2 linked regions of the Homo sapiens genome follow. The protein of the gene in region 2 interacts with the protein of the main gene of each other region in a pairwise test. Each region holds a gene or a part of one and is shown on either strand. Other genes may lie near its edges.

What was found. The genes of interacting proteins can lie anywhere in the genome.
Region 1: the proteins of RGS20 (region 2) and PTPMT1 interact in binary tests that used the Homo sapiens proteins (3 or more experiments, as listed by UniProt).

The regions. Positions count from the first base shown.
Region 1 is NC_000011.10:47,563,938-47,567,687, reverse strand, and holds the start of PTPMT1 (phosphatidylglycerophosphatase and protein-tyrosine phosphatase 1), read right to left. Parts: upstream 2,090-3,750; 5' UTR 2,066-2,089; coding exon 1,892-2,065; coding exon of another isoform or gene 1,783-1,891; coding exon 1,702-1,782; intron 1-1,701. UniProt on the Homo sapiens protein: Lipid phosphatase which dephosphorylates phosphatidylglycerophosphate (PGP) to phosphatidylglycerol (PG).
Region 2 is NC_000008.11:53,932,781-53,936,530, forward strand, and holds part of RGS20 (regulator of G-protein signaling 20), read left to right. Parts: intron 1-3,750. UniProt on the Homo sapiens protein: Inhibits signal transduction by increasing the GTPase activity of G protein alpha subunits thereby driving them into their inactive GDP-bound form.

The DNA.
Region 1 (3,750 bases), on a different chromosome or scaffold from region 2:
CTTGGGAGGCTGAGGCAGGAGAATCACTTGAACTGGGAGGCAGAGGTTGCAGTGAGCTGAGATTGCACCATTGCACTCCAGCCTGGGCAAGGGAGTGAGACTCCATCTCAAAAAAAAAAAAAAAAAAAGAAAAGAAATAGAAATAAGGTCTCTGGCAACTGGGCAAACTTTATGCTTTAAGACTTCAGATATGCTCCAGCTACTCTTGTTATTAACCTCTTAATAATGAGTATCAGAGACTTTATGGTTCTAAATGAAGATCAGTAATTCTTTTTTTTTTTTGAGACGGAGACTCACTCTGTCGCCCAGGCTGGCGTGCAGTGGTGCAATCTCGGCCCACTGCAACTTCTGCCTCCCGGGTTCAAGCGATTCTCCTGCCTCAGCCTCCCAAGTAGCTAGGATTACAGGCGCCTGCCACCACGCCCGGCTAATTTTTTTGTGTGATTTTAGTACAGACGGGGTTTCACCATTTTGGCCAGGCTGATCTCAAACTCCTGACCTCAGGTGATCCACCCACCTCAGCCTCCCAAAGTGCTGGGATTACAGGTGTGAGAGCCACCACGCCTGGCCAAGTCACAAATATTTTCAAGGTTTCAAAAAAATCCTCAGGTTGAAATAATAGTATCTTCATCATGCTATATCAGTAAAACAAATGAGAAAGATAATTGTTTAGTGCTATTAGATGCCAAACGCTATAAAGATAGGGCAACATTAAAAAAAAATCAAATAGCTCAGATTGTAGATAACATCTTCTAATAACCATTGTGGAAGATTCCACAAACAGGCCAGTCACATTTAATGAAAGTTATGTTTTAGGCCTAAACTTTGTTATGAGAGAACTTTGGAGTTCCACCATGATTTCTAATATATGACTAAAAATTCCCCCAAATCAGAGCCAAATGAACTCTACAGTTTTCAATGGATAGTTTTATGAAAAATCTGGGGAGGGGAGAGTGTTAAGGGGGTGCTTTTCGTCTTACAGTTGGCAGGGCCTTCATCTGGAATCCCTAACACTGGGAATGCTGACCCATACTCAGAGCTCAAAGTATAGAAAGAATGAATGAAATCAGGAAGGCATGGGAAAGTTGCCTTTCAATTTTAGTTTCTGATTTTGGTTACCGAAATAAGAATACATTACATTTGTTCACAAAGGAGAAATCAGGCTTTGTCAACTTCCACTTTTTTTTTTTTTTTTTTTGAGACATTGTTTCACTCCTGTCGCCCAAGGCTGGGCTGGAATGCAATGGCGAGATGTCGGCTCACTGCAACCTCCACCTCCCGGGCTAAAGTGATTCTCCTGCCTTAGCCTCCCAAGTAGCTGGGAGTACAGGCGCACGCCACCACTCCCGGCTACTTTTTGTATTTTTGTAGGGACGGGGGCCTCGCCATGTTGCCCAGGCTGGTCAGGAACTCCTGGGCTCAAGTGATCTGCCCGCCTCCTCCTCCCGCCTCCCAAAGTGCTGGGATTACAGGCGTGAGTCCCCGCGCCCGGCCCAACTTGAACTTTTAAATAAACGCCTTTCACAGCTTCTAGCCTACCTCCAGGTGCCATTTAGAGGCACAGACCGGAGGCAAAGCAGCTTGAGACACCTGGCTCCGGTGCATGGTGACCTCCCCCACACTTCTCTAGCCGTCCCAGGCTCAGGGCGGTGGGCGAGGGGGAGCGGGCCCCCGAGCCTGCCCCTCGGCCCGGTCCCTCACCTGTGAAGAGTTGCACAGGAACCTCGTCTCGTACTCCTCGTTCATGGTGATCACCCCGCGCACGTTCTCGTCCTGTACCAGCTGCCGAGGCAAAGAGGTGGCTCAGCAAAGACGGTGGAGACCCCAGCGGCCCGACAGGGACGGAGCGGCGGGGACGGGGCAGGGGCCCGGGCTCCCCGGCCCGGCTCACCTGGCGCGTCAAGCTCCGCAACGGCAGCGCGCCCAGCAGCACGGTGGGGTCGATGCGGTGGTACCAGTCCCGGTGCGCCCGACCCGGCACCTTCCCGCGGAACAGGGTGTAGAGCAGCGTCGGGTAGAAGAGCACCCGCGCCAGGCCGGCCTCCAGCAGCGCGGTGGCCGCCATCCCGGCCCGGCGCAGCGGCGACCCGTCGGCCCCCGCGCTCGCGGTCCGGACCCGCGAGAAGAGCAGGCGGGTGCCGGGGCGGGGCTGCCAGCTGCACTAGGCCTCTCGCGGGCTCGCACCGGGTGACGGCGGGGACTGGCCTGGACTCTGGGGGACTGGCGGGACTCTGGAGGAGGGCCCGGCGGCCTCGGAGGAGGGACCGAGGTTTCCTGGGCGGGAAACTGGGACCCCGGCGAAGGGAGAGCGCGTCGCAGGCCAGACACGTGTGAGCCCTGTAGCGTGGGAAACTGAGGCCCCCGCCTGTGGCCGGTGACCTCCCTCCTCCGAGGGAGGGGGGTTGTGACCCCAGGTGAGAGGGGCAGGAAGGACCCCTGCGTGTGGAACTGTGACTCCGGCCGAGGGAGGAGGGGACACTCCCCCCAACCCTCGACCAGAGGAAGGGGGCAGTGACCCAGGTGCGGGTGTGACCCCGCCAAAGGGAAGACAAGACAAGGAGAGGCTGTGTGGCGGGGTAGCCCTGAAGAGGACAGTGGAAGGGCTTAGAGCTTTCAAACAGAGGAGCTACCTGGGTGAGGGCCTGATCCCAGGGTGAACAGGGGTCCTGGGTTGAGGTCGCCTTCCTCCTCCCCTCCCCTGTCCTAGGGCAGGGCTCCCTCCTTCATCTGACCAAACAGCAGTGTTTACATAGCAGGAAAAAATAGGAAAATATACATTATATTAATATATCCTTAAGAAAAATATTATGAAGAGCTCAAATATAAAACCTGCAACCTACAAAAAGGTAAGAAGAATGGTTGTAATGCCAGCTATTTACTTTTTGTTTGTTTGTTTTGAGACGGAGTCTCACTCTGTTGCCCAGGCTAGAGGGCAGTCGCAAGATCTCAGCTCACTGCAACCTCCGCCTCCCGGGTTCAAACGATTCTCCTGCCTCAGCCTCCTGAGTAGCTGGGATTACAGGTGCATGCCACCACACCCAGCTAACTTTTGTTTTTAGTAGAGACGAGGTTTCACCTTGTCAGCCAGGCTGGTCTCGAACCTAAGGTGATCCGCCCACCTCAGCCTCCCAAAGTGCTGGCATTACAGGCATGAGCCACTGCACCCGGCCCAAGCATCTGGTGGAGTTTTTGTTTTTTGTTTTTTGTTTTTGAGACAGAGTTTCACTATTGTCACCCAAGCTGCAGTGCAATGGCGTGATCTCAGCACACTGCAACCTCTGCCTCCCAGGTTCAAGCAATTCTCCTGCCTCAGCCTCCCGAGTAGCTGGGATTACAGGTACATGTCACCACGCCCAGCTAAGTTTTGTATTTTTAGTGAGATGGCTTCAACATGTTGACCAGGCTGGTCTCAAACTCCTGACCTCAGGTGATCCATCCCCCTGGCCTCCCAAAGTGCCAGGATTACAGGCATGAGCCACCGCGCCCGGCTTTCTTTTTTTTTTTTTTTTTTTTTTTGTATTTTTAGTAGAGATGGGGTTTCACCATGTTGGCCAGGCTAGTCTTGAACTCCTGACCTATGGTGATCTGCCAGCCTCAGCCTCCCAAAGTGTTGGGATTACAGGCATGAGCCACACGCCCGGCCCAAGCATCTGGTGGAGATTTTGTTTGTTTGTTTGTTTTTAAGATAGAGTTTCACTCTTGTCACCCAAGCTGGAGTGCAATGGCGTGATCTCAGCTCACTGCAACCTC
Region 2 (3,750 bases):
AGACTGCCTCCTCAGGTGGGTCCCTGACCCCTGTGCCTCCTGACTGGGAGACACCTCCCAGCAGGGGTCGACAGACACCTCATACAGGAGCGCTCCAACTGGCCTCTGGTGGGTGCCCCTCTGGGATGAAGCTTCCAGAGGAAGGAACAGGCAGCTGTTCTGCAGCCTTTGCTAGTGATACCCTGGCAAACAGGGTCTGGCATGGACCTCCAGCAAACTCCAGCAGACCTGCAGCAGAGGGGCCTGTTAGAAGGAAAGCTAACAAACGAAAGGAATAGCATCAACATCAACAAAAAGGACGTCCACACAGAAACCCCATCCAAAGATCACCAACATCAAAAACCAAAGGTAGATAAATCCATGAAGATGAGGAAAAACCAGTGCAAAAAGGCTGAAAATTGCAAAAACCAGAATGTCTCTTCTACTCCAAAGGATCACAACTCGTTGCCAGCAAGGGAACAAAACTGGACAGAGAATGAGTTTGACGCATTGACAGAAGGAGGCTTCAGAAGGTAGGTAATAAACTCCTCTGAGCTAAAGGAGCATGTTCTAACCCAATGAAAGGAAGCTAAGAACCTTGAAAAAAGATTAGAGGAATTGCTATCTAGAATAACCATTTTAGAGAAGAATATAAATGACCTGATGTAGCTGAAAAACACAGCACAAGAACTTCCTGAAGCATACACAAGTATCAATAGCCGAATTGATCAAGTGGAAGAAAGGATATCAGAGATTGAAGATCAACTTAATGAAATAAAGTGTGAAGACAAGATTAGAGAAAAATGAATGAAAAGGAATGAACAAAGCCTCCAAGAAATATGGGACTATGAGAAAGACCAAATCTACATTTGATTGGTGTACCTGAAAGTGACGGGGAGAATGGAACCAAGTTGGAAAACACTCTTCAGGATATTATCTGGGAGAACTTCCCCAACCTAGCAAGAGAGGCCAACGTTCAAACTCAGGAAATACAGAGAACACCACGAAGATATTCCTCGTAGAGAGCAACCCAAGACTCATAATCATCAGATTCACCAAGGTTGAAATGAAGGAAAAAATGTTAAGGGCAGCCAGAGAGAAAGGTCGGGTTACCCACAAAGGGAAGCCCATCAGACTAACAGCACATCTCTCTGCAGAAACCCTACAAGCCAGAAGAGAGTGGGGTCCAATATTCAACATTCTTAAAGAAAAGAATTTTCAACCCAGAATTTTATATCCAGCCAAACTATGCTTCATAAGCAAAGGAGAAATGAAATCCTTTACAGACAAGCAAATGCTGAGAGATTTTGTCACCACCAGGCCTGCCCTACAAGAGCTCCTGAAGGACGTACTACACACGGAAAGGAAAAACCGGCATCAGCCACTACAAAAATGTACCAAATTGTAAAGACCATCAACACTATGAAGAAACTGCATCAACTAATGGGCAAAATAACCAGCTAGCATCATAATGACAGGATCAAATTCACACATAACAATATTAAGCTTAAATGTAAACAGGCTAAATGCCCCAATTAAAAGATGCAGACTGGCAGATTGGCTAAAGGTCAAGACCCAACAGTGTGCTGTATTTAGGAGACCCATCTCACGTGCAGAGACACACATAGACTCAAAATAAAGGCATGGAGGAATATTTACAAGCAAATGGAAAGCAAAAAGAAGCAAGCGTTGCAATCCTAGTCTCTGATAAAACAGACTTTAAACCAACAATGATCAAAAAAGACAAAGAAGGGCATCATTACATAATGGTAAAGGGATCAACACAACAAGAAGAGATAACTATCCTAAACATATATGCACCCAATAAAGGAGCATCCATATTCATAAAGCAAGTTCTTAGAGACCTACAAAGAGACGTAGACTCCCACACAATAATAGTTGGAGACTTTTACACCCCACTGTCAATATTAGACAGATTAACGAGACAGAAAATTAACAAGGATATTCAGGACTTGAACTCAGCTCTGGACCAAGCAGACCTAATAGACATCTACAGAACTCTCAACCCCATACCAACAGAATATACAGTCTTCTCAGCACCACATCACATTTATTCTAAAATTGACCACATAATTGAAAGTAAAACACTCCTCGGCAAACGCAAAAGAACAGAAATCACAACAAACAGTCTCTCAGGCCACAGTGCAATCAAATTAGAACTCAGGAATAAGAAACTCACTCAAAACCGCACAACTGCATGGAAACTGAACAACCTGCTCTTGAATGACTACTGAGTAAATAATGAAATTAAGGCAAAAATAAATAAGTTTTTTGAAACCAATGAGAACAAAGACACAACCTACCAGTATCTCTGGGACACAGCTAAAGCAGCGTTTAGAGGGAAATTTATAGCACTAAATGCCCAAAGGAGAAAGCAGGAAAAATCTAGAATTGACACCCTAACATCACAATTAAAGAACTAGAGAAGTGAGAGCAAACAAATTCAAAAGCCAGCAGAAGACAACAGATAACTAAGATCAGAGCAGAACTGAAGGAGGACACCAAAAAATCCTTCAAAAAATCAATGAATCAAGGAGCTGGTTTTTGAAAAGATCAACAAAATAGCTAGACCACTAGCCAGACTAATAAAGAAGAAAAGACAGGAGAATCAAATAGACACAATAAAAAATTATAAAGCAGATATCACCACTGATCCCACAGAAATACAAACTACCATCAGAGAATATTATAAACACCTCTACACAAATAAACTAGAAAATCTAGAAGAAACAGATAAATTCCTGGACACATACACCCTCCCAAGACTAAATCAGGAAGAAGTCAAATCCCTGAATAGAACAATAACAAGTTCTAAAATTGAGGCAGTAATTAATAGCCTACCAACCAAAAAAAGGCCCAGGACCAGACAGATTCACAGCCTAATTCTACCAGAGGTACAAAGAGGAGCTGGTACCATTCCAAACAATAGAAACAATAGAAAAAGAGGGACTCCTCCCTAACTCATTTTGAGTCCAGCATTATCCTGATACCAAAACCTGCCAGAGACACAACAAAAAAAGAAAATTTCAGGCCAATATCCCTGATGAACATCAATGCGAACATCCTCAATAAAATACTGGCAAACCGAATCCAGCAGCACATCAAAAAGCTTATCCACCACCATCAAGTCGGCTTCATCCCTGGGATGCAAGGCTGGTTCAACATATGCAAATCAATAAACATAATCCATCACATAAACAGAACCAATGACGAAAACCACATGATTATCTCAATAGATGCAGAAAAGGCCTTCAATAAAATTCAACACCCTTTCATGCTAAAAACTCTCAATAAACTAGGTATTGATGGAATGTATCTCAAAATAACAAGACCTATTTATGACACACCCACAACCAATATCATGTTGAATGGACAAAAGCTGGAAGCATTCCCTTTGAAAACTGGCACAAGACAAGAATGCCGTCTCTTACCACTCCTATTCAACATAGTATTGGAAGTTCTGGCCAGGGCAATCAGGCAAGAGAAAGAAATAAATGGTATCCAAATAGGAAGAGAGAGAGTCAAATTATCTCTGTTTGCAGATGACATGATTGTATATTTAGAAAACCTCATCATCTCAGCCCAAAATCTCCTTAAGCTGATAAGCAACTTCAGCAAAGTCTCAGGATACAAAATCAATGTGCAAAAATCACAAGCATTCCTATACACCAAGAACAGACAAAAAGAGAGCCAAATCATGAGTGAACTCCGATTCACAATTGCTTCAAAGAGAATAAAATACCTAGAAAT